Homo sapiens: one gene and its partners. The protein of the gene in region 3 purifies or fractionates together with the protein of the main gene of each other region. This does not show direct contact. Each region holds a gene or a part of one and is shown on either strand. Other genes may lie near its edges.

Region 1 (10,250 bases), 360 kb from region 3:
ACCTGTGGCAGCTCCCGTGGCCCTGGGGAGTGGAGTAGGGCCCTGGGAGGAGGGAGTGCCAGCTGGCAGATAAAGGGATGCAGCTGTGCAGATGTAGTAACAGGTGTCAGCTGCAGGAAGAGTGGCTGTTTATGAAGTCCTACTGTGTGCCCAGTCACTGTGCCATGGGGCCATGTGTGTTATCTGCTATGGAATTCCATCTCTGCAACAACCCCAGCTAGGGAGGCACAGAGAGAGACGGTGACTCCCCTGGGGCCACACGGCCAGGAGAGCAGTGACTCAAATCCAGGTCTGTTTTATTTGAGAACCATGATGTAAAACGACAGCTCCCTCTGGACTGGTTATTCTAAGAAACTTTTGTGAAAAAAAAAATTCCCTGTTTGGCACAAAGATAATAGCATCGTAATGAGGTGTTTATTGGATCTGTGTCTGCAGAGGACGTCTTTGATGAATTATTTAAGCTGGCTCCGGAGAAAGTGAACGCAGTGAAAGAGGTAGGAGAGATCAAAGCTCTCAGCGGCTCTCAGGCTGCCCACCCCACCCACTGCCCACCTGCGCTGTAGGAGGGAATCACGGGTCCTCCCATCACACCTGCTGTGTGCTAGGCCCTTGTTCTTCCCTGGTTAGGCCATCGTGAACTTTGTCAACCAGAAGCTGGACCGCCTGGGCCTGTCTGTGCAGAATCTGGACACCCAGGTAGGGACTGAGCTGCGGCGTCCCCAGGCAGGGCAGGGCCACTGGCCGTAGGAAGGAAAGAGGGTTCTGCAGGCCCTGGGAACCTGCTGTGTGGTGGGGGTTGCATCACCTCTTGGAGCCTTAGGGTCCCCCTCCCCGGTGGGACTGTTGCTGGCAGGCAGCAGTGGTCACCAGGGACATGGTGGGATCCCGGGGGTGGAGGTGTGGGAACACTTCACAAAGCTGGAGTCACCTCGGCTGTCACTGCTTCTCATTGTTATAATTTTATTTTATAATTAATCTCAGACTAGCTGATGCCAAGACTTGAAGCATATGAGTCTTCCCTGCGTGGTTGTGTTCGCCCAAACAGAATTTATTAGATTTGTCCCATGTGCCAGGCGTAGGTGACAGCGCAGCCCAGCCGTCTGCAGGCTCCATGTCTCTCACAAGCACCCTGAGGAGCCCAGCCCCTCCCCCGGCTGACTTAAGTCGAATTTTCCCAGGAGCAGGAGCAGAATCTCAGGGGGTCAGCACCCACCATGGGCTGTGGCTTTCCACAGTGAAGCTGTGTCCCTGTAGGCTTCCCACACTGCAGGGGAGCAGGGGGTGCACAGTAGCAGACCGGCTGCCAGCCCGGGGCCTGCAGAGTGGGCATGGAGTCTGCTGGATGCCAGTGGCCTGAATGGGACATGACGTAGGCATCTGGCCACCTGGGTTCTGCTGGGTGCTGGGGTCTGGGGTGGGGAGGGAGTCTGGTCCCAGATGGACCAGTTGGCTCATGAAGATCGTAGCCAGAGCTGCTGACCTCTCAGAGAGACTCTGGATGGGCATTGGCTGGGGAGGGAGGGGTTAATGTACTCCCATGCCTAGTAGCTAAAACCAATAAAGCCCTCACTATGTGCCAGTCCCAGGGCAAAATGCTTTCCATGTTAACTCATTGAATCCTCTCCATAATCCTCTGAAGTGGGAACTGTACTACCCCACTTACAGAGGAGGATGTTAAGGCACAGAGAGGTTAATTAACTTGTCTAAAGTCACACAGTGATAAGTAGTGGACCTGGGATTTGAACCCAGGCAGCTGGGGCCAGAGTTAGTGCTTATAACCACCTCACATGGTGGCCACGTGAGAAGTTTGTGTGTGATATGGTGTGGCAGCATGGCAGGGTGGAAGTATCACGCTCTGTAGCCAGACAGACACACATTTCCCTCCTGCCTCCACCACTTATGGGCCCTGGGGTCTGCTGAGAACCCTCCACATTTGCTGTGTGACCTTGGGTGAGTTACTGGACTTCTCTGAACCTCAGGCTCTTCTTCTTATAAAGTGGGTACAAGATAGCAACTTGGTAGAATTGTGAGTGATACATGAGCTGGTGAGCCCCACGTGTTTGGTATATTACCTGGCACGCTGCCGGCATGAAATAAGTGAGAGATTTGTAGTTTTATTATATTTTATGTGGGTATAAACAGGATGATTTCTGAGATTTACATTCTACCTGTTCTATCTGTATCTCTCCCTTGGTAAAATAATGGGTTTCAGAGACTCATGGCATGTGCAAAGGTGGTATTTAGAGACTGTTCAATAAAATGGGGTAAGGAAGTCCCTTGCATTTCAGTTGTATTACCAAGGAATAGCAGCAGAAAAGATTTCAGGCCCAAACTAATAACATCGAAGCAGACTTAATATGAGGAAATTCCATTAAGGGCTTCGAATGGCAGTTCCTTCCAATATCCCATCCTGTGTTTTGTATCTTTGAAGAGTCTCAATAGGATTATATTAACATATGATATGCTGGTGGCAGGGACGACAGCTTTATCTCTGAACATACAGACAGAACAGACAGAAATATTAATGTGGCAGCCAGCGAGATGAGCCTGGTGTGCTGCTCTCTGCCTTTCTCTGATGGAATAATTTTACACTTAACTCTGTTTTCCCCTGTGTTTCTGTAGCTTGTGGAAGAGCGTGCTGTTTAAAAACTGATATGAGGCTTTTCTGCAGTAAGTTTAGAAAGCACTCTTTTCACTGAGCATGTACTATATACCAGGCAGCCTGAAACCACTTTTTACCTGCAACCCTGTGAGGTCAGGCATGTCTTCCCCACTTCTCATCAAGGCACCAGAGGCTCAGAGAAGTTGTATGACTTCCTTAGGGCCACACAGCCTGTAAAAGACAGAGTGGGCTTCGCCAGGCTTCTTCCATGTGATTGTCTCCAGTTCCTTCCTTTGTAGTTTGCAGATGGGGTCATCTTACTCTTGCTGATTGGACAACTTGAAGGCTTCTTCCTGCACTTAAAGGAATTCTACCTCACTCCCAACTCTCCTGCAGAAATGGTAAGTTTTCCAAGGATTTTTCTTTATGGTCTACCTCTAGGTGAACAGATATACAGAACTGGCATGACCAGTCTGTTTATTCACTTCCAGGTGAAGTGAAGGGTGTAGGGGAAGCTTATTTGTCTATATGTCTGCCTATCCATCCATCCATCCATCCATCCACCTATTCACCTATCCATCCATCTACCCATCCATCCATCTACCCATCCATCCATCCACCCACCCATCCATCCATCCATCCATCCATCCATCCATCCATCCATCCATCATCTACCTATCTATCCATCCCCATCTACCCATTATCTACCTACCTGACCGCCTATTAGCCCTCCTGTTCACCTACCAAGCCACCCACCATCTATGCACCCATCCATTTAACTGCCTACCTGTCCATCCACCTAACTGCCTACCTGTCCATCCACCTACCTGCCTGTCCATGCACCTATCTTCCTGTCTGTTTATTCATCTACCCAGTCCATCCATCCATCCATCCACCCACCTACCTGCCTGCCTGTCTACCCACCCATAGGAAGTTTATCTATATGTCTGTCTGTCCATCCATTCATTCATCCATCCACTTGCCTACCGGTCCATTCACCTGCTTGTCCTGTCATGCATCCATCTGTTTGTCCTTCAATCCATCTTCCTGTTCTGTTTATTGATCCACCCAATTTACCCATACACTTGCCTGCCCATCCACCCACCTGCTCATCCACCCATCCCCTACCCACACGCCTGTTCCCCCATTCCCTGAGGGCCTGTTTAGTGCCAGGCCCTGAACTGCATGGGATGTTAAGTTGATCCAACATAGCTCTTGCTTTCAGGGAGCTCTCAGTCTGTGCCCACTGTTCTCCTAGTGACGTGTGGTCTTGCAGGGCCACAGTGAAACGTGTTGGTTCAGATGCCTGGGTCAGAGGAGGGGCCTGGAAGAATGAGGGCTTAGAATAATCTCAAGGAGTCAGGAAGGGCATTGCATCAGAGGGGAGCCGGGAAGTTGATCAGGGATTGGTTTGCAGAGTTATCAAGGAAGGGCTTGCAGAGGGGAGGGAATAGCATCAGCAAAGGCTCAGAATGTGGCAAGAACAGGAATGGGTCAGGGAGGTGTAGGTGCTTCACTCTGGCTAGAGGGGCTGGAAGGGTGGGGCCTGACCTGGGGGGATCAGCAGTTCCCACGTGGACCCTAGAGGCTGGTGGACTGGCTGGGAGCTGGCTGCCTGCTTCCAGGCATGAGGGCTGTGGCTTGACCTGGGGAAGAGGGATGAAGAGAGTGATGGAGGTGGGGTGAGAGGGCAGGTGAGCCTGCAAAGATGCAGCTCCCACCGCCTCTTCCCCAGGTACAGCCTTCAGTGCCCGCTGGCTAGTCCTGCCTCCGCCCCCGCCAGGCCCCTGTGGTGTGTGCCACCACTTCCTCCAGCTCCCTGGGCTCTCCCATCTCTGGGCTTTGCCACAAGCTGTTCCCTTCCCAGGAGCACCCTTCCTACCAGGTAGGCCTGGCCCATGAGAAGGGATTTTACTACTTTCCAAATAAGGAAAGAGAGGTCCACGGGCAGCCAAGGCTTACCCCGGGTCACTGCCAGGCAAGAGGCCTGAGTCTTGTGCTCTTCGCCACCAGCTCCCTGCCTGCCTGGACCTCAGGTTTTCTGTCTCTGAAAATGGGCTGACAATCCCTGCCCCCTACTCAGGCCACACAGGTAGTAAGAAAGAGTTTGGAGAACCATCGAGGAGAAAGCATTGAGGGACATGTGGTCCCTAGTATCCCCAGGCTTGCCTCTCACAGGAGGTGACATTGGAGGCGTGCATCCCAAAGGACAGGCTGGAGTGTTGGTGGCTGGTGGCGTGCCCAGGATCCCGGGCAGCCAGCTTATCTCCATCCATGCCAGGGTTCCCGTGGCCTGGGGCAGGAGGACCTCTTTATCTCTCTGCAGCAGTAGCTTTTTCTAAAGAGGTGAAGCAGGAGGCAGGGCCACATGCCCCGTCCCAGGGCCAGCCTCTGGGGCTGTTTCTGGGAGAGACAAAGGCTTCCATCCCTTTCACATGCTCAGGGCGTCCTTGGCCCTGGATCAGGCCTCTTGGCCTATCTGGGGCCCAGTAGCAGGTGAGGTCCCCCCTGGACCCCTACCAGACTCCCCCTCCACCTAGGCCCTTCTTCTAGGCCGCTCCCCTTAACCTTCCTGGACACCCACCCTTGTGCCTCTCCCCTGCTTCAAGTGGAGCACCCAACTGCCAAGCCCCATCTGCCTCCCCGACCACGTCCCCTCCTCCCTTCCTGCCGACTCCCAGCCACAGCCACAGCCACAGCCACATGACCTCTGGCCCCCTTCCAGCTCTCCAGGGCCTGGTCCTCCCCCATTCCCTCACATCCACGCAGGCTGTGCTCTCAGCCCAGCCTACCCTGGCTTTGCTTCCCACCTGCTTCCCTGGGCGGGCGGCCAGCTCTGCCCACCTTCTCAGCTCCTCTGCAGTCCCTCGGCGCTCTGTGGGGCCCTGTACCACAGTCCACACTCCCTTGGGGTTAGCTCCCTGCACTTTGCCTCTCCTGGCCCTCTCCCCACTCACCCTCCCTCCTTGCCCCTGTGAGAGCGGGGCAGGGCTGCATCTCCATTTTACAGAGGGGAGCCCAGGGCCCGAGAGGCTTACCCAGTACCACCCAGCTGCTCAATGGCAGCCTCACACCAGCACAGCCTGCCGCCCGCAGCCTGCCATGTCCCTCGCCCCCACGGGGATGCATCTTGAGTGGGTGTGGCCTCCACCTTCCCTGGAGGCCAGGTGCTCTGGACTTGGTTCCCAAGAGCTGGGATGTTGGGTCAGAGCAACGAGGCCGGGGCAGTCAGTGTCTACGGTCCTGGTGGTTGTGGCAGGCACGGTGCCTGCTGCTTCCTAGGTTCTTCCATTCGGAGGAGCTGCATCAGCCAGCCATTGCCACAAACGTGCTGCTTAACAAACCACCCGAAAACCTAGGGGCTGAAAACCATGCTCATTTCTTCCCACAGACCGGCAGGTCGGCTGAGTTTAGCTGCTAGAGGCTCAGCTAGGCTTTGTCACTCCTCCGAGGACTGGATAGGGATCAGGCTGTCGTGGCTGGGTGGCTCGGCTCTGTGCCACAGCCTGCCATGTTCCTTCTGGGACCAGCAGCTGGCCCGGGCACGCTTTCCTCCTGGCAATGGCAGACACATGAGAGACCAGGCAGAAGGCATGAGGCCCTGGCTCAGAATGGGCAGGCTGCCACTTCCATCGAAGCAGGCCCTGTGGCCTTGACAGTGACATGGGACAGCCCTGCAAAGTGTGTGGGTGCAGAATTGGGCCGATGGTGGGATCTCCCACGGGCAGTGTGGACGAATGTGCTAGCAAATCCTCATGTTGGGTCTTGGAGTTAGGAACTCTTCCCATCCCCACTTCCACAGAGGAAACAGTTGAGAGAGGCACAGAAGTCTGGCCCAGAGCACACAGTGAGTTAGGGTCCTCCCTGTTTCCCTCCTGTGGAGCCAATGTGAGTCTCTGGGAGATGGAGGGGTGGCAGGGCTCAGTGGGGTTGAAGCCAAGGCTGAGACTGGGGTCAGAGCCTGCCTCGGGAAGGCAAGGCACTGAAATGTGAGCGGTGAGGAGAGAAGGCGGAGGAAGGGGGCAGGCAGGACCACCTGCGGGCTGAGGGCCTGGGGCTCGGAACCCAGCTCAGAGCCACTCTGGGGTGCCCCTGGGCTGCAGGGCCTCTGCTCAATCTGTTGCACCATCCAAGCCCCAGTTACAAGACGGGAACAAACGTGCAGACTTCCATGTTGCTGTGTGCAGCCGCTTTGCTGAATCCACTGATTTTAGAACTTACTTCTGAATATGAGTCAGATTAGATGTGGGGGAAAAGCAGCAGCCTCTTAGCTCAGACTCCAAGAATGAATTTTTACAGCATATTGTGGGCAATCTCTGCTGCAGGAATGTGTAATCAAAATGCTGAAGAGGTCGTCAGCTGAGGAGGGCGGGAACACCAGCCCTTGCTGAAGGTGGGCCTCTGCGGAATTGTTATCTTGGCAGAGTAGCCTCTTGAAATTGGATTTCTCATTATCAGACCCTCTTTGCTGATGGTGTTTATGTGAGATAGTTATTCATTGTGGGCACGGAAGTTAAGGATGGAGGGAGAGAGGATCATTCGCTCCCAGAAATAAAATCCCCGGAGCCAGGAATCCTTGGCGTCCTTCCACGTTAAATTACTTTCCCCAGGAGGATTTGCACGTATCCTCCCGGGTTGTAACCTTCTCTCAGCTCCGTGGAAGGTGGTAGTTTTATCTTCATCTCAAGCCACACGCGGAAGAAAAATCTCTGGACAGAGCATCATGAGATAGCTCTGGAGCCAGGGTCAGCTCTTACTGGGGGATGATCTTTTGTTCAGATTGAGTGTCATTGAGGAAGAGTGTGACAAACAGAAGCAGATGTCATAATTTTCAGTGTCGATAGCAATTCCCAAAGCATAAGCTCTATGAGGGCAGGAGGTCTGGTCTGTTTTGAGCACTGGTTGTATGGCTAGCACATAGTAGATGACAAGTATTTTTTTAAATAAGTGAATGAACGAAGTGTTTCCAAAACATTGGTCCCAGGAGGTGTTCTGTGACAAATGGGTTCTATGAATAAATAACTTGGGGAAACATGTCTAGTCTTGAAGGTTCATGCGGCCCACCAACACATTCAAGGCTCTAATAAGTCCTGCAGTGAAGGACTTCCATAGTATTTTATTTAATCCAACAATTTCTAAAAACGTTTGGCCACAGATATCCCCTTTCCTGTCCATCTTAGATCACAGTTTGGGAGATGCTGGCTCGCTGAATGTATCAAAGGCGGAGCTTTGAGGCAGGAGAGCACAGTGCGGAGTCTGGAACCTCAGGTTCCTCAGGGTCTTGTTCTCACTCCGACATTTACTCTCCATGTAACTGCAAATAATATTCGTGATGAGAATGCGAACAATAGCAACAATTGCAACCCTAGTTTCCCAGAATATTCCAGTCTAGGAGGAAGAACTGGGGACACAGTGATGGGAACTTCCGGTGATGCTCTGGTCTGTCCACTCGGAGCTTCCCATCCATCTTGGTCTGGACAGTCTCAGAGTTTCACCCCGCATTGGCCCCTGCAGCATGCTGCAACATTGGTGCCGTGTGATAGCCTTTGTTTCGCTCTTGTCACCCAGGATGGAGTGCAGTGGTGCAATCTTGGCTCACTGCAACCTCCGCCTCCTGGGTTCAAGCAATTCTCCTGCCTCAGCCTCCCAAGTAGCTGGGATTACAGGCACGTGCCACCACACCCAGCTAATTTTTGTATTTTTAGTAGAGACAGGGTTTCACCATGTTGGCCAGGCTGGTCTCGAACTCCTGACCTCAGGTGATCTGCCCACTTTGGCCTCTCAAAGTGCTGGGATTACAGGAATGAGCCACCGTGCCTAGCCTGTTTCTTCTTGTTGGCTGACTACAGAGGAGCGGCCCTGCTGCTGCTGCTGGGCACCCTGCCCATACACTCCTTTCCATCTGGGACCCGCCCTCCATCTTCATGTCCCCACGTGGAGAAGGACTCTGCTCACCCACTTCCAGCTCCTATGCCTTCATCATCCTCACCTTCAAATCTTGCTTTGTGGCTTCAATTCTGTGTCCGTCATCACATTGGACGCACATGGCAGCCTTGGAGAGGAAGGCAGACAGGTGTATCATCCCCGTGACACAGATGAGGCACCTGAGGCCCAGCCAGGATGTGTGACTTGTCCGAGGTCAGACACTTAGTGGCAGGGATGGGGGTGGCAGTACACAGACATCCAAGCTAGATCCCAAGAGTCCTCTTGCTCGGGCCATCCAGCAGGTGGCTGGAGGTGGCCTGGGCCAGGCTGGCGTTTCTGGATGAGTCTTGCCTGGCCTTGCTCATCCACCGCTCGGCCAACCTGGCCTCTTGGCCCCTGGCGGGTTGCCATGGGAACTGCCCTGTCCTGGTGGGGCTGGTGTGGCCAGGCAGATAGGGAGGGAACGGGACCAGCACAGCTGACCCCCGGGCTGGGATGTCCACCCCGTCTAGTGGATCTACGGGTGGCTAAGACATTGAAGGGAGGACCTGTTTGAGGTCACAGTGAACCAGGAGTTCATCCCTCTTCACCCACACCAGGCTGCTGCCCTAAGGCAAAGGGCTGGGACCTACTCTGCTTGTAGACGAGGCCCAAGGGAGAAGCTAGAATGGAAAGGGAGGGGACCTACTGTGGGAGGGCCGGCAGGCTCCTGGGCTCTCACCATATCCTGTAGCAAGGCACAGGGGAACTGTGGTGAGCCCACTTTGCAGGGGAGCAAGGGGAGGCCCTGGGCAGGGACTAAGCTGAGCTCTGAATCACTGGGGGACTTGACTGATGCCCGGGCGCTCTCCACCCTAAAGGGAGCCATCTCTGAGACTGCACCCCAGGCAAGGGGTGGCGGAAAGGACAGCCACCTGGGTGGGGACCGCTCCAGTCTCTAGCCTGCTTTGCATGAGCATTGGAGCGGACAGACCTGGTTTGAGCGCTTTCTGTCTCGTGAGCTCCAGTGAGCCCCTTGGCTCCTCTGAGCCTTGATTTCCTCACTGTGCTTTGCCCTGGGAAACAGCTGTTCTCAAAGGTGCTCTGCCACCCCAGGCCCTTGCTCCTTTCCCTGGGTAGTTCTCCCTGCCTGGCGGGACTCACCACCAGGCTTCACCTCCACCAGGAAGCCTTCCCTGATCCCTATTGGGTATCCTCCTTGGCGATTGCCTTTTTCACGGGCAGTGGCCCCTGGACGCAAGCGTGTGCCCAGTGTGGTATAGCACCTGCTCAGAGTGGGGCCTGTGAGTGGCTGAGGAATGAGACATGGATTGCTTGTGTGACAGAGTGAGCTGTAGGGAGATGCTGGATGACCACGGATTGTGGTCGTGGTCAGGGATGCCCACCTTGGATGGGAGTTTAGGCTCATGATGGACATCACAGACAACAGGAAGGGCTTGGCACTTGGGACCCAAGGCCTGGCCTGGGGCTGCTGCTTGTGCCCACATCTGATAGGGCCTTGTCATCATAGCTGCACAACGTCACCCTGGCGCTGGAGCTGCTGAAGGACGAGGGCCTGCTCAGCTGCCCTGTCAGCCCTGAAGGTGAGTGCAAGGCAGATGCCCACACGGTGGCCAGCCCTGGGTGGCAGCCTTGTGCGAGAGCCACAGAACAGGGTGCAGGGCATTGGGGGATGAGCACGCATTGGCAGAGTCCTCTTGCCTGGCAGGGGTGGAGAATGGGC
Region 2 (10,076 bases), on a different chromosome or scaffold from region 3:
TATTATTTTTCTCTCACTCATCAGCTAGCATTAGTGTATTTTATGTGTGCCCCAAGACAATCCTCCTTCTTCCAGTGTGGCCCAGGGAAGCAAAAAGATTGGACACGCCTGTTCCAGAGGCTGCTCACATTTGTTAGCACATGACCACTTCTCGAATTACTACAACGTCTTGCTTCTGTGTCACATTTTCTACTACTCTCTTTGACTTTCCTGCCTCCCTCTTATTAGAACTCTTGTGATTATTACATTGGATCCCATCCTATAATCCAGGATAATCTCCCCGTCCTTAATTTAATTAATCCCATTTGCAAAGTCGCTTTTACCAGGTAAGGTAACAATTCACAGGTTCTGGGGATTAGGATGTGGACATCTTTGAGGGTGGTCATCATTTAGCCCACAACAGTCAGCTAGAGGCATTAGGGACCCTCAGATCCACCCAGGTACCTCCTAATATGCACTTTCCTTGTGATCAAAAGAGACTGGTTACCTGGTACATTGTTTAAATCTTTGTTTTTGTTTTGTTTTGAGATGGAGTCTCACTCTGTTGCCCAGGCTGGAGTGCAGTGACACAATCTCAGCTCACTGCAACCTCTACCACCCAGGTTCAAGCTATTCTCCCCTCTCAGCCTCCTGAGTAGTTGGAATTACAGGCACGTGCCACCACTCCCAGCTAAATTTTGTATTTTTAGTAGAGGTGGGGTTTTATCATGTTGGCCAGGCTGGTCTTGAACTCCTGACCTCAGGTGATCCACCCACCTTGGCCTCCCAAAGTGTTGGGATTACAGTTGTGAACCATGGAGCCTGACCTTGTTTAAATCTTTGGATCCAAACAAGTACAAAGCCAATTCTGAATTTACCAGTCAAATTAGCTATTGAATTCAGTTTATGATTCTTTGAATTAGGTTTCTGTAATCTCTAACCCAAACATGCCTGATTTGTACACTTGCCCAAGGTCACACAGGAGCAGGCTGAATCTCTCCTCTTTACCCTATGAGGGTCACTGATGAGAATGCTCATTTGTCCTCTATTTGAAGGGGACTCTTAACTGTCAGCACTCTCCCTCCCAGCCTCCACTTCAGCCCATGTTGGCCACAGGGTCCTATGTTCAGGGCCACACTCTTCTCTAATCCTCACCAAATACTCAGCCTGTTTCTTCCAGTGCTTTTCTTTAAAATGATATTCACTGGATCACTAGAAGGCCAGGCTCTAGATGCTAGAGCCACAGAGATATACCTTTCCTAAGGTGTAAGAAATATTTTATATTTAGAGGGAGAACAGATAATTATCCCCTCCCCTGCCTCCAACATTGAAAAGCATGCTTCTTGTAAGATGCAGTTAAATTTTGAAATTCTGTTACATTAAACCCTTAATACTCATGAGCTACCCATAGACTTCAGTATTGGTTTCCTGGGATAAACCATTATTTACTTCAGGAAACTGTATCATTAGAATGGCAGCCATTATTCCATTCTTGGCATAAAAGTAAAAGGAAAGCATGAACATGGCACACGATAATCAATTTAATCTGATTTATACCAGGTGGCAGGCAATTATTGTTTTGTGAAATAAAATATATGGCTGTTGATTGATTTTGTTGTGTTATGATAGTCTGTATTTCTGTAACAGTTCACTTTAGCTGGGACGGCCCTTCAATTTGGAATTTTAATCCCTGAAGTGAACCAATTGGGATGATCCTGTCTCTTCAGGCTTGTTTAGGGTTGCACATTCCCTGGGTCATTGCTCTATTCCTTATAGAAAATTCTATGGGTTATTGGTAGGATTGTGACTGTTGTATGTCAGTCTGACTAGGCTAAACTAAATTTCCCTGAATTTTCTTTCCTGAATGATTCCTGAAAAAGAAACGTGAGCCAAAGTAAACATTGTTCTGTGAGCTTGGTGGGGCGGAAGTGAAGCAGCTATTTTGTAGCTGGCACACACTGCTGCCCGTCTGCTGCCTCACCTGGTGCATGGGCAGCAGCTGGGCCTGCAACTGTTCCACCTCCCTGGATCTTCCTCCAGCTTCTATGATCCTGGGCCGGGCTTCTTTGGGAGGGCATTCCAACCGCTAAGGTCAGAGGCACTGAGAGCCGACGCGGGTTTCAGTTTGCCCCCGTGTGTCCAGCTTATACCTGGGAACCCAGTTTGTTCTTGCTCTCCCCCTTTAAGTTTCTATCCATCATCCCTTCCCAACTTCCTGCCCTGCAGACTTCAGGCTCCAGCATCAAATGCAACAGCAGACATATAGAGGCAGCTTCACTGGCACCCACCATTGTGTAAAGTCAAATCCCTTCTGATTGATCAATCAATTGATCGATTGATAGATGGATTGCTCCATCTCTTAGTGGTTCTGCCTTTCCCTTCCAACCCTAATTGAAACAATACCCCTGTCCCAACTATGTAAGTCAATGTTTGTTTAAGATTGGCTTCAAGCTGCCAGGATCAACATTTTTCTTTTAAATGTATTTCTTGTTTTTATTCAGTGCTCTGTGACCATCTCTTAGCCATAACATTAGCTTGTGGCTTGGCTTTTCACATATGATTAAGATTAAAGATCAAGATTTTATGACTTTTCCCCAAATCCTGATTCTGGACCTAAGATAGCCTTAACATTAAGCATTTGGTATTGGACAAATGGAAAGTGAATATTTACATAATTTTATTTTGATTCTTTATATTCTTATATGAAAATCTTTTCATTACCTTTTTTTTGGCTTTAGATTTAATAATGGTTACATTTGTACAATGTCCTTTAGCATTAAGAATAATAACTAGGGGCCAGGTGTAGTGCTTTATGCCTGTAATCCCAGCACTTTGGGAGGCCAAGGCGGGTGGATCACCTGAGGCCAGGAGTTCGAGACCAGCCTGACCAACATGGAGAAATCCTCCCCGCTACTAAAAATACAAAAATTAGCCAGGCATCAAGGCGCATGCCTGTAATCCCAGCTACTCAGGAGGCTGAGGCAGGAGAATCTCTTGAACCTGGGAGGCAGAGGTTGCAGTGAGCCGAGATTGTGCCACTGTACTCCAGCCTAGGTGACAAGAGCGAAATTCTTCTAAGGAAAAAGCCACAAGATCCAGTAAACTACATAAAATAAAACAGTCATGTTTCATACAGTGAACATTCTGCAATTGTATTTGAAGTAAGGATGATAGTGCAAATTCTAACATACTTTCTAAGTCATAGGTTGTTACAAATAATGGGAGACAACTTACCTCTTTATGAACAAAATAGCCTATGTTTTATCTAGTAGTTGGATAGACTCATCTTGTTGCTAAATGTGTCTCATGTTGCCGTCTACTTGTAGGAAAAAATAATACACGTTACAAACCATTTACCCGACCTCCATTATTCCCTAGGGCAGCATAAAAGCATGTTTTTAAATAAATGTAAACACATGGTTAGCCAAGGATGACAGAACTCTGGATCATTTCTCTATCTTTCCAAAACTGAAATAATTTTAAGGCCATAAAAAATGTCACAGCATGGTTTTAGAAAGAAGGCAATCCAAAAATAAAGACACGAATTCCCATAAAAGCTAGGCTATGGGTATGAGGTGCCCGTTGCCATGGGGTAATAGAAATCTAGGAGTAGGAGAGACAATGAATCTGAACTGTCTCAACTTTGCTATGTCCCTGGATTGAGGTACTTGGCAGCCCCGAGGGAACGGAGTGATTGGAGGCATGACCTTTGGAGCTAATGTATTTCTGTACTCCTGTGTTTATCGCAGGGCATTTGGTTGAATTAGTGCCACTTCCTGCCCTAAGGATCTCACAATCTAGTATGTCCCCATTTGTTCCTAAGCTTGGTCTTAGTTTCTGCATTCTCCCATATGATTCCACTCAATATCTTCTCAACAGTAAGCTTGTAGTTGAATTTCTTGGGAGGACGCTCCCAGAACATCATCCTCAGCAGCTGCAGGGTGTCTCTGGGGCAGGTCTTGAGACTGCCTTAGGCTCTCTGCTGCCCTCTCCTGGCCACAACTGTCTCTACTGCCAAGGTGCTAATGCCGAACCCCTGTGGGATCTCTGGTCCAAGGAAACATCTGCACACAGGCCAGGGATGGCGCTTAGCTTCATCTGTGCTGCAAACTCTCATCAGTAGGCTTGCTGGCTCTGTGACCTTACTAGCTGAACTCCTTAATCTCTCTGCACTTCATTTTTCTAGTCTATAAAATGGAGATAACAACAGCACCTACCTCAGAAGACTGTTATGAAGAGTAAGTGTATTACTATTTATGAGTCAATTAGGACAGTAGCTTGCACATAATAAGTGTGATATGAGCGTTTGTTAAAACAGTTAAACAATCAAACAAACATAGAATTAGAGTGCTGACTAGAGAACAGCTGGTGATGACGCGGGAGGGAGATCTAGGATCTATTAGAGATGTCTTCCAAGGACAAGGGAGAGGGGATTATACAAGAGTGAGGTGTTGTCCCTGATATAGACCTGAATGGGCTCAGCCCTAGACACACTTTTAAAGGTGATATGCTTACTACAACTCTTCAACACCTATTCTTCTTCTCTTTAAAAATGATCTGAAATTTATTCTCTTGGGGATAAAATTTATTGTATATATTATATATATAATATAATTCTTGTTATGTATGTGTATATATATAATTATTTGTGTATATATGTGTATATATATAATTATTTTTATTGCGTGCTACTATTCCAAGCCAGATGCTAAGTGCTGGGGACACATGTAAGCAAGTTAAACTGGCCCCTCGCCAGATGAAACTTAGTTTGCAGTTGGTGAAACAGACATTACAGAGATAATTGTGCAGTTGCTTATTTAGTTACAACCATGAAGAATACTCTGAAGGGCAAAGACAATGTGTAACAGAGTCCTGTCCTAATCCTGGCGGTTAGAGATAGTGTAGTTAAGGAGATGATATTTAAGCTTAAAAACAGAACTTAGGGAAGCTGGTCAGCCCAGGGCTTGGGCTTGAGGAAGAGAAGGGCATTTCACATAGAAGGAGCTGTGTGGGCAAAGGCTCTGGAACCATTTTGTACTATGAGAAATCCAAAAAAGAAAAAGATTTAAAAAGGAAGGGGTGGTCAGTAGCAGTCATTTAACATAATCACCTGTTTCTCCCAAGGGCAGATTGCATTGGTCCTCTACATTTTACCAGCATTGTGTAATATCAGTATGGAATAGAAAGGATTGTAATTCTGATTGGGGGAGGAGAAACCTTCATGGCGATAATTTTATTAGGGTTTTAAAGGATCGGCTGGGCTTCAGCAGACATAAACTAGAGGATAAGAAGCTATAGACTAAGTAAATTACTCTGAAATTATAAAACTTTTGGTATTAGCAAGTTGGTAGAATTTGTTTATTTCATAGGTCCCTTCTCCAGCCTGCTGGAAGCACACCATCAAATCTGCAGCCAGAACCATTTACAGTAAAGTTGTCCTGTTTATAGGTTTTTTCCATAAGCTGTTTTATTTTTTAATAAATAAGAAACAATGCCATTGTCCTTTACAAAATAGCTGAGGTTTTACTTGAACAAAATCTGTTTGGAAATGTTAAGCTGGTTACACAGAACTAATATGCCTCAAGGTGGTCATTCTCTCTGGATTAAAGCTGTGGGACAATTGTGGCTCCTGTTACAGGGAAAATTACAATGGGCCATTATGAAAAGGGACAAAAATCTCTGTTCCCAGAGGGGGACTGACAAGCTGAAAGTCCCTCTCTACATGCCAACACAAAAGCCTGATTGCTTCAGATTGTTTGTTTATGTAAATCAAAAGGATGCCTTTAACTCTGCCAGGGAACTGGCAAGCAACAAAGAAGGTGGTGATTGGCTGGATTCTTGCTCATGGCTCCTGGCAGATCTGACAAATCCTCTTGCTTTTGCTCTAATCTCTGTCTGGATACTTTTAGGAAAAGAACCTTGTTATTATGTACTAAAGTGAATAATTTGTGCTCTTAGAGTAGGAGTTGGAACTATAGGACTTGAAGGCAAGAGCAGGTATCTTATCAAGGATCTACTCACTCAGTTTCCCTAAAGCTCTCTCTCCAGATCGGATTCAACCGCACATCATGACAGATGTTCCGGCTACATTTACCCAGGCTGAGTGTAATGGGGATAAACCACCTGAAAACGGTCAACAAACAATCACTAAAATCAGTGAGGAATTGACTGATGTGGACAGCCCCCTGCCACACTACAGGGTAGAACCCAGTCTGGAAGGTGCACTCACCAAAGGAAGTCAGGAGGAAAGAAGAAAATTACAAGGGAACATGCTGCTCAACTCATCCATGGAGGACAAAATGCTAAAAGGTAAAGTGTTTCCCTTCTCCTTAATTTTCTTGTTTTGACTTATAAATTTACCCTGGATTTTTTTGATAAACTATTATCGAAATGAGCTGGACACCCCAAAAATGTAGCCCTTTATTCTACTACGCATAGTATAAGGACTAAACCTCTGCCTCTGGTGAAATCCAGGCTGGTCTATTTGACAGCTGTGACCCCAGACAACTTTCTGTCTCCCGAAGCCTGAGTTTTTTTCACTAGAAGAAGGCGGAATAATAATAATAACTACAAGTCTAGGGTAAGTATTGGCTAAATGTTAACTACTGTATTTATTATGATTATGGACAGCCCCATATTATTTGAACAAAGAGAATTCAAAATGTTAAAATTTCCTTCTAAATATAACTGAAGTTCTCTGAATTTATGGTTCTATATCTTATATATATATCTTATATAAATATTAAAGGAGAGATTACAATCAATAAAGTGATCATTAAGTAAATAAATTGAATTGATAAAGAATGAATCCAAAGAGTGAAATAGTAAATTTTAATGATCAGATTTAAAATTAAAGACTTCTACCTAGAGTTTAAATTGATAACTTATTAACTGTTGAACAATAAATATTTTAAATGTTAAAATACTGATTTTATATTTTTTTCCTAGAAAACCCAGAAGAGAAACTCTTTATTGTTCATAAGGCTATCACAGATCTTTCTCTCCAAGAAACTAGTGCTGATGAAATGACATTCAGAGAAGGTAACAAGAACTACAGTTTTGTACACAGAAATTGTTTGACTGAGTATGGATGACAGTCTTTCCATGAAATGTTGCATGAGCGTGGGGTTGACAAAGCAATCCAGGCAATGACTTCAAATTTTCAAAGCTGCTGTAGGCAGATAAGAGAGTCTTAACTTATCTGTGGGTTCCACCTTATAAAGCATTCCAGACTGTTCAAGGCTGAGGCTGCATGGAATGGCATAGCTGATTGGCATACCAACGTGATGTCTATCTCTTAAGTTAGTCCACTGAGTCAACCCTACTTTTTGATTTGGTGTGTCCAAATCTGTGTGTGCACCTTGTGAAAGGTAAATGTTTCAAAAACGGGTCTTTCCTAAAAGTCTACAATTAACATACAGCTTTTTTTTTTTTTTTTGAGACGGAGTGTCACTCTTGTTGCCCAGGCTGGAGTGCAATGGTGCAATCTCGGCAGACTGCAACCTCTGTCTCCAGGGTTCAAGCGATTCTCCTGCCTCAGCTTCCTGAGTAACTGGGATTACAGGCACCTGACACCACGCCCAGCTATTTTGTGTGTGTGTGTGTGTGTGTGTGTGTATTTTTAGTAGAGACGGAGTTTCACCATGTTGGCCAGGCTGGTCTTGAACTCCTGACCTCAGTTGATCCACCTGCCTTGGCCTCCCAAAGTGCTGGGGTTACAGGCGTGAGCCACTGTGCCCGGCCAACATACAGTTTAAAGTAATCTCACGAAATGATTTACTTTATAGGCCTCTAATGTAAATACAAAATTGTTAACTATTTCATGTCAAAGAAAGACAGGGTGATAAAGTTAATTTTAATTGTGTTCTTTAAGAAAATGGAAGAATAAAAAGAACATTGAAGTGATTATGTTAAATTTTAAATAAACTTAATAGACTAAGAGACACAAAATCCTTTAGATTTTTCTAAGACACCTACATTTAAACAGTTCCCAAATAAAGTGTAGGATAAAATCTATTAATTAATCATTTCTTTCCTCTCTTGCAGCCATACACATCTTATGTCAAATTGAAGTCAGCTTGCTAAACCTAACCAATTTAGCTTTGTTAGGACTTTAACAGGCAAAATATTGAAGAGACTATTGGTTGAAATATTAGAACATCACATAAAATAGTAGATGTCAAGGAGGACAGGAATGTGATTGGCTATTTCCTACATCTGCTCCCTTTGCCTGAACACCTCTCATACTATGTCTGCTTAGCAGTGTAGCAACACTTAAGGAAATATGTAGCAAGCAATAGACAGTGTCAAGCTGTCACATTACCAGAGATAATTTTTAAGACTTAAGACTTCACAATATGAACTTAATAACCTCTTTGCCCTAATTATTCTGCTTCCAATGTAACAAGTTCTCAGAGGCAGAATCTCAACCTCCTATCATCTAGAGCCCCTTTCAAATGTTTGATCAGGAGTCCATTGCAGGTAACAGTTGTCTAGATCTTTCATTTTCATCAAATGGAGAATGAAAGCAGGCTGTAGTTTTCAGCTAGATGGTCTCGCTGGTTAAGTTTTCCCTCAATGAATCCTTTCCTGTTTGATGGAGTATGTTTTTCCTCCATAATAGAGGCACAGATTTTGGTGTGTTTTATCTTCACAGTGGCAAACAGCTATAAAATCTTCAAAAAGAATGTTACTGGATTAAAACATATAAAGATGCTAAAAATATTGAGGAAAAACTATAATTTAAATTCAAGGAGTAATTTTATATGTGACAATCTCATGGCTGAGTCATGAATATAAACAAAATATCACTTACTTTGGTTCTTGTGGAAAACAAAATAAAACAAAGCATAAGATTATGGCAAACATTCTAATGTGTATTTATGGATAATGTTAGGAACATTGACGGGACACTAGCGACCTGATAGCAGCTGTGTGTAACAAATTAGGGTGATCACCCATCTTTACTTCTATCTCTGTAAGTTTACTATGTATTCCCTAGAGTGAGAAAACAACAAAAAAATAAGAGAACTGAACACCTTGGATGAAAATGGAATTGTGAACATCTTTCGGAGAGAGTAGAATATTGTGGAGGAAAAAGACAAAGAGGAACATTGCCTCTCACCTTACTTATAGACTCTCACGGTGTCAAAAGAAAATGGTGAACTCAGGCCTGACAAGGGGTGTAACCCAGACAGATTTCTGAGTTGTGTACACCACAGACTGAAACTTCCCACAGAAGCCTTGCAGGGCTGAAGGCTCAGAGAACAACCTCAGCTTCCTTATAATTAATTCTTACCATATTCAATAAATATTGTTGAGGGTATGTTGGTATGATCTAGCTGTTTGAAAAGTGACCAGACATGGACAGTCATCATTTTCAGTATTGGAAACGAGCATTTTTTTCTTTCTGAAGTATTTTTCTAATTTTCCTTGAGGTGTGTGTGTGTGTGTGTGTGTGTGTGCGTGTGTGTGTGTATGTGTGAGAAAAAGATAAGTCCAAACATTTCCTTTTACATGTGCACGTATCCAGTTGTGACTGGCTAGACAAGAATTTTTTTTTTTAAGTGTGTCTCAGGGAACACCAGTCTCACTAAATACAGTAGTCCACAACAGAGTTCCATAGACAAATGAAGTTAGGTTGTTGACTTTCTTACAGATTTACAATACTCGTTAGCATTTCAAAGGCTTGTAAAAATTCTGAAGATGCTTATTTAACTGTATTTAATGCAGTGTTTTTGAAATTAATTTGGCTGTGTAGCCTGTTTGTGCAAAACATATTGGTAACCCACAGAATCATATCCCATAAAACATGTGTTGGGAAGTGATTAGCAAGAAAAATTATTTGGAGAATAACAGACTAATGGCTGGGTATTTTGGAATCTCTACACATCTCATCTACCAATTGATTTTGCTACAGGGCATCAGTGGGAGAAGATTCCTCTGAGTGGCAGTAACCAGGAAATAAGAAGACAGAAGGAGAGGATTACTGAGCAGCCTCTCAAAGAGGAAGAAGATGAGGACAGGAAGAACAAAGGTCACCAGGCAGCTGAAATTGAATGGCTGGGATTTCGAAAACCTAGCCAAGCTGACATGTT
Region 3 (10,250 bases):
GTAAGTGACCAGATAGTATAATGACCATTTTTCTTTGATCATGTTATCACATCTTGCCAGCTGGCTTTATGCCCTAGGAAGGCCGGGGCCTGTTCCCTGCGTGTTTCGTGGTGTGTGTTCTCGGTGCCCCTCCCTCCCTGATGCCCACGTTGACCTGCTGTTGAATTCTCCTGGAAGCTGGAAAACGTAAGGTCAGGAGGTGTTCAACCAGGAAATTGATGTGGCAGGCTGGAGAGAAGGGCCACGGGGACAGGGCCGGGTGGACCTGACGAGTCAAGAGCTTCCTTTGGCTGATATTCTGGCATAAATATTTAATGGGGGTGAGGACGGGACTTGTGGAACTGAAGTGGCCGATATTGATGTAAGAAGACTTTAACGTGCAGAGAAGGTCTGTCTGGGTCGTTGGCCTGCGGGGCTGCACGGGTGGGGAACGTGAAAAATAGGTGATGAAAATGTCACTGGGAGAGGCCCATTTCAGGGACGCTGCCCACAGTCTGATTTCTAAGGACAAAGACCCCCTCACTGCAGCTGTCCTGAGCTGCTGGGTGGATGGTCCTCACCAGGAGGAACAGGCAAGGCAGCCACACCCTGGTTCTATAACCCTTGGCACATTTTGGCCTTAGCCTCGTCTGCCATGAGGATGGTGGTACTTCCTACTCAGGTTGGTGGGAGAGTCCATGGGCTGAGAAGTTCTTTGTGTGTATTGAAAAGAGCTTGTTTTCCATCACCAAGCCAGACCACTTCCTTCCTTCAGTGCCTTTGCTCCAAAGCTCCCTCCTCCAGGAAGTCTTCCTTGATCAACACATCCCCTTCTGATTACTCAGTGTCTATGCAGCAACCAGCGTTTGTCGGTCCACTCAGGAAATATGAATTGAGCATGGCCACATGCTGGCTCTCCTGGTGCAGCAAAGAACAAGACAAAACAGCCTCTGTCCTTAAGGTGGAAAGAGGAGAGAGCATGTAAAAGAATTTGCAGGCTTTTTCTGGGCAGGTAGATAGCACATTGGAATCGCATGACAGGGCGAGGGACGGGAGTTAGTCCCACAGCTAGTGAAGGAGACTGTGCTGACTGAGCGGCATCTGAGCAGGCGCAGGGAGGAGTCAGGGAGTGAGGAGGCTCCAGGCAGGGACACCAGTGTCGGCAGCCTGGGGAAGGGCCGGTTGGGCTCAGAGGCTGGAGGGAGCTCAGGGGAGAGCCAGGTGGTGAGGGAGTGGAACATGGTGAAGGCCTTGCGTTGACTCTGTGGGAGGCAGAGCTGCCTGACGGCGGCAGTGGACAGTGGTGGAGTCTGACTTCCATGTTAAAGCCACAGTTTTGGCCGCTGGGTTGAAAACAGGTAGAATAGTGGTCCCCAACCTTTTTGGCACCAGGGAGTGGTTTTGCGGAAGACAGTTTTTCCATGGACCCAGGTGGTGGGTGATGGGGATGGTTTCAGGATGAAACTGCTCCACCTCAGATCATCGGGGTTTAGTTAGATTCTCATGAGGACCACATAGCCCAGATCCCTCGCAGGTGCAGTTCACAATAGAGTTTGTGCTCCTATGAGAATCTCGTGTTCCCGCTGATCTGACAGGAGGCAGAGCTCAGGCTGGAATGCTTTCCCGCCCAGTGCTCGCCTCCTCCTGTGCGTCTCGGTTCGGAACAGGCCACAGACCCGTGGCCTGGGGGTTGGGGACCCCTGGACTAGAAGGCAGAGTGAGCTGGGTGGCAGCAGAGAGCCAGGGAGGAGCCCTCGTAGGAAGCAGTTCAGGTGTGAGGACGCAGTGTCACAGGGGGAGGGTCAGCTCTGGACACACCCGACGGCAGGGTCGGCGGGGCTCACTGAGGCAAGGACAGAGGAGAGGAGCCGGGTGAGCCACAGTGAGGCCACCATCCGGCCTGAGCCTCTGTCAGCTGGAGGGGCTGCTTGCTGAGACGGGCTGCGGATGCTGCGGAGGAGACAGCCTTGGATGCTGCCCCCAGAGCTGGCTGGGTCCCACTGAGGCGCTGGGCAGCGGGTGAGGTACTGGAGTTGGTGGGCATGTGCCCCGGAGGCTGATGTGTGGAGGGGTGGACCTGGGTTTGGCCTGGGGGCAGGGGACCAGGGCTGCACTCCGGGCTGTCACCACGTTCAGGGCGGGGAGATGAGGAGCCAGTGGCAGAAACTGGAGCCGCCGATATGAAGGGACCACAGTGGGTTAAGCTGTGCCCGTTTCTTCTGGGAGGTCAGACAAGGTGATGACTGAGAATCACTGGGGACCTGGAGCTGTTTTTGGGCCTGGGAATAGAGGCTGGAGAAGGCGCAGAGGGCCGCCTTTCTCCCTGGGAGTTACCTTTGGTCCCGGCACACTTCTGGTTGGGTGTCCTGCCTGGCCCTAGGGTCCTCGAATGGGACTCTGCACTCAAGGCACCAGTGCATGTGGTCAGCCCCATGTGTGGTCCAGGCGGGGCCCCGCTTCCTCCTGCCTGCACCAGGTGTGGAGCCGGTCACAGTGCCTGCTCCCCTGGGCCGTAGCAGGGAGGAGAGGGCCTGTCCCGTGCATCCCAGGGTGTGCACTGCAGGTGATCCCGGCCATCAGAAAAGGCCGACTTGAAGGGGCAGGGGCTCTGAGACAGCTGTGCCTAGGCTGAGGCTGGGAGGAGCATACAGGCAGAGCGGAGAGTGCTGTGGTTGGCCCTGCCCAGGAGGGTGCAGCCTGGACCCCGCACCAGGTGTGCAGAGCTCAGAGGGCCTCAGTAAATGATTGAATGCCTGGGCCTGAGTGTGTGAACATTGGGAAGCTACGGAAGGGTTTTGGGCTGGAGGCCGTCGGACCTGAGTGCGAAATGTGCTGTTTGTCCTAGAGGGACGGTTCCCAGACCCAGGCAGGAGGCCTGGCTCAGCCGCGTGGCTGATTTGTGAGGAGGGAGAATTGGTCCATAGGTCTCTAGCCCTGTGGGCAGCTGTGGTCCTGTGAGTGAGTGCCAGGGTGTCCTCAGCACACACGAGCTCCCCCGCAGGCCTCTCCCTGCCTTTAATGGCACGGCACGCTGGGCTTGCCCAGGCTCTTCCCGTTGGCCACATCTCCCCACAGTCTTAGGAGAGGAGGTTATGCTGACCAGGCCACTGGCGGGCGGAGGTGATTTGTCTCTTTTTAATTGAATTATATCTTACATGTGCGTATCAGTTGGAGAAAAGCCCTCAAACCGCTTTTCCTCTGCTCTCACACAAGAGTCAACACAGAGGCCTCCTGTGGCGGACAGGCTGGGGATTTCTCCCCGCCAGCAAGCAGGCACTCAGTCCTGCAGCAGCACCAGCTGGATGTCCCCCAGTCCAGTTCAATTCCAGCACTGCCCACCTGGAGACAGCACGAGATCCCACGGGGCGAGGTCTCAGTCCCACAAGACTGCCCCCAGTTCTGATGCCAACCACAAGCCCCAGGTTGTTTTGCCTGTGTGTCTCACCCACTGGCTATAAATTGGGGTTCGCACACCCTCCCTGCCCACGTTTGACTAATTTGCCAGAGCGGCTCACAGAACTCAGGGCAACACTGACATTTCCTGGTTTATTATAAAGGATGTTACAAAGGCTTCTGATGAATACCAGAGGAAGAGACGTCTGTGGAGGATGGAGGAGGGTACGGAGCTTCCATGCCCTCTCTGGGCAAGCCACCCTCCAGGAACCCCCATGTGTTCAGCTCTTTGGAAGCTCCTCAAAGCCTGTCCTCTTGGGCCTTTTATGGAACCCTCATTGGCTAGGCATGGTGGAAGCATGTAGAAATGGGACTGGACAAAAGGGCTGTGAGCCCAACACTGTCAGTCGGAGTGGGGAGCCCAGGAAGGCCTGCCTGTGCGACATTCCTTCCTCCCCTTCTGAACTGGGGGTCTCATGACCCACACAGTCAGAAAAGGCAGGTCAGAGAATTTTTCTTTTTGTTTTTTGAGATAGATTCTCACTCTGTTGCCCAGGCTGGAGTGCAGTGGTGCAGTCACAGCTCACTGCAGCCTCTACCTCCTGGGTTCAAGCGATCCTCTCACCTAAGCCTCTTGAGTAGCTGGCACTACAGATGTATGCCACTATGCCCAGCTAATGTTTTTATTTTTTATTTTTTGTAGGGACAATGTCTTGCTATATTGCGCAGGCTGGTCTCGAACTTCTGGCCTCAAGCAGTCCTCCCGGTTTGGCCTCCCATAGTGCTGGGATTATAGGCATGAGTAACTGTGCCCAGCCCAGAGAGTTTCTTCATAGCCAGCTCCAAGACAGAAAGGCGGGGGAAGATTCAAGTATATTTTCAGTTTGTATGGCCTGCCTTGGGGAGAAAAAGGAACAGGTGAAAGGGGTGGGGGCAGGAGAAGGTCAGAGAGAGAGAGAGAGAGAGAGAGAGAGATGCTGTTTACTGAGACCTGCTTCTAAGGCCTGGAGTGGTCCAATATTATGACAAAAGACTGTAATAAGGGCTGGGGGGATAATGAGCCAGGAGCCATAGATGGAAACCAGCACATATCATAATGTAGCATGCTTCCATGTAATTCCCACCAGACCCAGTTAATAGCTCTAGACCCCGGAATCGCCTTTGTGTCTTCTCTGAATCAGTAACCAACCCAAAATATAAACACTGTTCTCACTTCTGTCACTATAGTTGAGTTTTGCCCATCCTTGAACCTCATGCCAATGGGACATACAGGATTGTACCCTGGAGCGCCTTGGGGTGGGAGGACTCCGTCACATCCTGTCTGTGGGGCTTGGCCATGCTGTGTCTGCAGTTCCGTCACATCCTATCTGTGGGGCTTGGCCGTGCTATGTCTGCAGTTCATTCTTTTTTGTTGCTGTGTAGTACACCATGGTGACTGTCACAACTTACTCATTCTATTGCTGATGGGTATTTGTGTTTCCAAGTGACTTTATGAATGATGTGGCCAAGACTGTTCTAGAACCTGCGTACTGGTGGACAAGCACTGGCTTCCCTTGGGTGTCTCCCCAGGATAGTTCCTGGATCATGGGCTATGTGTATATAGCTTCAGTAGATACTGGGCAGACGTCATTTCCTCATCTTGGCTAGCGGGTCATTCCCCCGACCCATCATTCCTGCGTAAACTGCCAAGTTCAGCCTCAGGTTGGGCCGAGTCACCCACCTGTTACAGCCCCTGAGCCACTTCCATAACAGGGGCTGGGTTCTGTTCTGTTCTGTTCTCCTAACAGCCCTGTGAAGCATCCTGGCCCCTCTGAGAATCAGAGCCGACTGGCCCATGACCCAGCACGGGGGATTCAGGCTGAGACCGTGCGGGGCGCGCTCCTCTTCCCAGACTCAGTCGCCCTGGGCCCCACCTGGGGCTCTTGAGCCCCTTCTTGGGCAGCAGGTGTTGACCCGAGCACAGGGCCGGGCGCGTGGGCCTCCTCTGAGCACCCCGCGCTGGGGCTTCTCCCCTCCAGGCACCAGCTTGCTGCAGGAGGTGGTCTACTTGGTGAGCCAGGGCGCTGACCCCGATGAGATCGGCTTGATGAACATCGACGAGCAGCTCCCGGTCCTGGAGTACCCACAGCCGGGCCTGGACATCATCAAGGTACCCAGGGCCAGCAGCACCTGTCCCAGCACCTCTTTAGGGTATTTCTACCGTTACACCCTGATGATTGACAGTTGCTCCTGGGGGCTCTGTGGATTAGGGGAGAGCAGATAGCCCCAGATAGCCAGGGGAGAAGCTGGCAGGCCTGAGCTGGCAGTGACCTGGAACCCGATGAGGGCGTGGGTGACACATCAGCGTCAGGGAGTCTGTGAAGTGGAAAGGAAGTCAATGCCTGGGGGGCACAGGGCTGAGGGGCCATTTGTGGGGAGCAGGCCCTGGGCCTCCCCCTCGCTTTCCCCTGGGGGCCCTCCTCTGAGGGAGCTGGGTAGGATGTGTTTGCATCAAATATTTGGTATCAAGAATGAATAAATGTTACCCCAGAGCCCTGCTCCCCGCACCCCTCAGACACACCCACAGGCACCCCCACCCCGTCCGCTGCACCTCTTTAGTTCCAGCCTCACACCTGAATGGGCCAGAACTGCAGCCTCCACCACACCTGTCCTCCTCCCTCTGGAGCAGCATTCCAAAACCCAGCTCTGAGAGTGCCATCCCACCCTGTGTCATGCTCTGAGAGTGCCATCCCTCCCCATGGCACAAGACCCCTGTGGCCCTCCAGGGCCCCTGTCTGCACCCCAGCCTCTCGGGCCTGAACGGCCATTTTGCTCTCCTTGTCCGTGCGGAACCATCTGGGAGTCGTTCCGTACTGCCGTGCCGAGGGCCACCGCGTTCAAGGCACTGCTCTTGGCATTGGGGGCAGCAGTGACTGACAGCATCAGGCCCGGCCTTTCAGCCCAGGAAGCCATAGTAGCTAGCCAGCGATCAGCGCTGGGAGGGGAGCAGATCAGGGGGGGACCAGCAGTCTCCTCTGGGGATGTCTGAGGCAGGTCCTGAAAGAGGAGAGGAGCAGAGGGACCCGTGAGCAAAGACCCCACGGCACGAGGGGCCTGGCCTTCCAGAGCAGTAGGCAAGCCTGGGGGTTGCAGGCAACGGTTCCGGGCTCTTTGGCTTCATGAGGGCTGGGCCCATTCCTAGGGCAGCTGGGAAGACGGGCTCTGAGCAGAGAGCACGGTGCTGGCTGCTTTACAGGACAACCCTGGCTGCTGATGGGAAGGCCCGAGGGGCAGGTGGAAGCAGTGAGCGCATCAGGCCAGGTTGCTGTGCGGTCCAGCGCCAGCCTGGCAGCACCCACTGGGGCTGGTGCCTCCTGCTGCCTCTGCTGCCCTCCGACGCCACTCCAAGCCGGGGCAGTAGCTCCCAGGCCCCCTGAGCAGATCCTGTGGCTGTGGCTATGATGGGTGGACTCCCCAGGCCAAAGTCAAGGACCCTTGTCTCTACCGCCAGGGTCCAGCCGGGGTGTGCTCATGTCTCCAATCTTTGTCTCAGGTGACAAGGGAGGCTGTCCTGGCTGGGTCCGAGACTCTCTCCAGGACAGGAGACCAGGGCATGACAGCCTTGCCTCCTCTTGCTCTGACCCCTCCCTACTCCTGGCCTCACCTTTCCCTCTGACCCCTACCGTTCTCCCCTGGCCCCCACCCCTTCCCTCGTCCTCTGGTCCCCCTGCTCCTGGCCTTACCCCTCCCTCTGGCCTCACCCCTCCCTCTTACCTGACGCTCTCCTGACCCCTCCGCTACCCTAGACCCGCCGTTCCCTCTGATAACTCCACTTCCCCTGAACCCCACCCCTTCCTTCCTCCTCTGGCCCCCTTCCCCTTGGCCCCACTCCTCCCCTTGGTCTCACCCTTTCCTCTGACCTGCCTCTCCCTCTGACTCCACGCAGGAACTGACCTCTCCCCGCCTCATCAAGAGCCACCTGCCCTACCGCTTTCTGCCCTCTGACCTCCACAATGGAGACTCCAAGGTAAGCTGGCACCTCCTCTGCCTCCCGAGATGAGTCCCCACCAAGAGGAGCCCAAGGTCCCTGTGCAATACACATGCAGGTCCCTGGCACTTACCTGGCCTTGGGGGCTGTCTTCCCAAGGAGCCCACACGTGAAGATCCCTTCTGAGGTGGTCTTGGGTCATGCGTCTCTAGCATTTTACCCAAGTTTTTAACGACGGGTTGGTTTTTACCTCACAGTCAAACATGGCTGTGGCCAGCCTAATCCAAAGCAGGCCAGCAGGCGTGTACCTGCTTTGGGCCGAATTCTCTTTGTTTTTCAATTGCATCAAATGCCAAGGCCTGTGGGGTTTTTTTGTTTGTTTGTTTTTTTGTTTTTGAGACGGAGTCTTAGTCTGTCGCCCAGGCTGGAGTGCAGTGGCATGGCTCACTGCAACCTCTGCCTCCCTGGTTCAAGCGATTCTCCTGCCTCAGCCTCCTGAGTAGCTGGGACTACAGGCATGTGCCACCACACCCGGCTAATTTTTCTATTTTTGGTAGAGACAGGGTTTCACCATGTTGGTCAGGCTGGTCTTGAACTACTGACCTCAGGTGATCTACCCACCTCGGCCTCCCAAAGTGCTGGGATTACAGATGCGAGCCACCGCACCCGGCCAGAGGCCTGTGTTCTTACCACCAGGATCAGGGTTGTAAGTTTTTTGTCTTCTGCAGATTTTAAAGTAGTTCTAGAGGACAGAAATAAAATGCTCAAGTAATTTTCCTGGCCAGCTCTACTGCATGGACAGGGCACCTTTCTGCTGAAACAGCGAAGCAGCAGCACCCAGCAGCCGTGCACATGGGCCCCAGCTGGACGCTGGAAGCAGGTGTTGGTTTGTGAGGTGCACCAGCAGGTTCAGGGAGGCTGGCCTGTGTCGGGGCAGCCCTGCCTGGGAGGGAAGGAGACACGGACTCATCCTGCTCCTGTCACCCACAGGTCATCTATATGGCTCGCAACCCCAAGGATCTGGTGGTGTCTTATTATCAGTTCCACCGCTCTCTGCGGACCATGAGCTACCGAGGCACCTTTCAAGAATTCTGCCGGAGGTTTATGAATGATAAGCGTGAGTGTTGCAGCCTGGCGGCATGTTAGAACCGGAGCCGTCTGTTGTCGTGGACGGCCTGGCAGGTGCTGGGTGCTTCCCCGACACGGTCTCCAGTTCTGACAGTGACCATGTAGGTCAGGCCCGCGGTCACTTTACAGATGAAGACACTGAGGCCGAGGGTCGTGAACGTGGCCGAGATCCTAGAGCTGGTGTGTGTCAGAGCAGGTCCATCTGAACCCAGAGCCCTTCTCTTCTACCACACTGTCGGGGTGTCTGAGAAGTTCCCCAGTTAAAACATCCATCCTTCCTACCTGGGTTTCAAACAGGGAGAGAATGAAAACAGTAAAAATGGAGGCCCAGGTATCACTACTGTTAGTGATAGGGCCTGGAGTGGAGACTGGAGCTAAGTGTGACAGGCATGGGCCTTTGGCTGAACCTCAGGCACAGGCAAGCTACTGGGGCAGGGCACACTTGTGCCCGCTGGGAGGAGGACAGCCGGGCTGAACCTCAGGCACAGGCAAGCCTCCGGGGCAGGGCACACTTGTGCCCGCAGGGAGGAGGACAGCCGGGCCGAGAGTGCCATGTGCTGTTCTCTGGCTTCCATTCCAGCCCCTGAGGAGGAGCGAGGCTGGGTTCCACCCTGCCCTGCTCTCAAGGAAGGCGGGACCAGGCCTCTTGTCTTGGTCCCACTCGCTCCCAGTCCTTACTCTCTTGCCCCGCTGGGCCACCTTTCCCTTGGGAGTGGTGGCAGAGCTCCTCAGTGCAGTTCTGTTCCTGCCTTCCTGAGGGGGCTCCCCATGGCCAGCCATGGCTTTGGGAGGTCCTGGGACAGAAAGTGGGCAGTGTAGGGTGTGCAGGCAGAGGAGCTTTGAAATGTGTCATAATAGCTGCACTTTAATTAAATCTACACTGAGACTCTTCCCTACCCAAGGCTGAAAATACACTTTCTGTTTTATTTCCCAACGGAAGTGATGCTGAGCCGCATTGTTCAGTGTGGCTTATCGGGGGCTCTGCAGGGGGCTTATGTGACAGGATGAGGATGAATCATGTAGCAGAGATCCTGGAACGTAATGCCCTCGAGTTTAAGTGGAACTTAGGGCAGTGGACCTAGAGCTGCTGCCAGGCCTGGTTGAAGGGGACCTCTTGGCGGGGCGGTGCAGGGCGCCACAGGCTGACTCTGTTGCTTGCAGTTTGAAAACCCACGAGGGCCTCAAAGCCCTGGGATGATTCTGTTTCCTGCCCTTGAGCCTCTGCTTCCACTGTGCCTGCTGAGAAGTGGCCCTGCCTGCAAGGGGTAGGAGGCCCCAGACCGCACCCTGAAGCCCCCTGAGCCTGCTCTGGGCCTTCTGTCCAGCCCCTCTTCCCATGGCCTCTTGGCCCTGGCACCTGCTCTTGTGGTCCACCAGGCATTTGGAGCAACCCACTCATGGACTTCTGAAGCTGTTTCCTAGGGTCCAGCATGGACTCTGCTCTCTGCAGAGCATGGGGACAACACCCACATTCAGACCAGCACGTGGAAGAGGCTACAAACATCTTGCTCAGGCCAGAGCAGTTAACAGTTCTCTTAATATAGGCCTCTCCATGTCACCACAGTCACAGACCCATCCTCCACTGAGTGCAAGGTCCCACACACGTGCCTTGGTCCCAGCAAACCCTGTAGACAGGCCCACTCAGCACCCCTGTGCTCCGTCCTTCATTGTCACTCAGTGAGCACGCACATACTGAGGACCGCTGGACCCCCTCCCTGATGTCCTGAAGACGGTGGAAACTAATATGCACGGGAACCCTGAAAGCACACCATGTCCAGACAGG

Evidence for each region.
Region 1: the proteins of SULT4A1 (region 3) and PARVG purify together in Homo sapiens (affinity purification with mass spectrometry; 2 studies listed by BioGRID and IntAct, with this or other methods). This does not show direct contact.
Region 2: the proteins of SULT4A1 (region 3) and ERMN purify together in Homo sapiens (affinity purification with mass spectrometry; 2 studies listed by BioGRID and IntAct, with this or other methods). This does not show direct contact.

What each region holds. Positions count from the first base shown.
Region 1 is NC_000022.11:44,195,720-44,205,969, forward strand, and holds part of PARVG (gamma-parvin), read left to right. Parts: intron 1-435; coding exon 436-494; intron 495-627; coding exon 628-696; intron 697-2,622; coding exon of another isoform or gene 2,623-2,646; exon of another isoform or gene 2,647-2,848; intron 2,849-2,901; coding exon 2,902-3,003; intron 3,004-10,037; coding exon 10,038-10,110; intron 10,111-10,250. UniProt on the Homo sapiens protein: Plays a role with ILK in promoting the cell adhesion and spreading of leukocytes.
Region 2 is NC_000002.12:157,321,614-157,331,689, reverse strand, and holds the start of ERMN (ermin), read left to right. Parts: upstream 1-5,865; 5' UTR 5,866-6,015; coding exon of another isoform or gene 6,016-6,047; coding exon 6,048-6,288; intron 6,289-6,927; coding exon 6,928-7,020; intron 7,021-9,898; coding exon 9,899-10,076. UniProt on the Homo sapiens protein: Plays a role in cytoskeletal rearrangements during the late wrapping and/or compaction phases of myelinogenesis as well as in maintenance and stability of myelin sheath in the adult.
Region 3 is NC_000022.11:43,837,073-43,847,322, reverse strand, and holds part of SULT4A1 (sulfotransferase 4A1), read left to right. Parts: intron 1-5,390; coding exon 5,391-5,521; intron 5,522-7,297; coding exon 7,298-7,378; intron 7,379-8,329; coding exon 8,330-8,456; intron 8,457-10,250. UniProt on the Homo sapiens protein: Atypical sulfotransferase family member with very low affinity for 3'-phospho-5'-adenylyl sulfate (PAPS) and very low catalytic activity towards L-triiodothyronine, thyroxine, estrone, p-nitrophenol, 2-naphthylamine, and 2-beta-naphthol.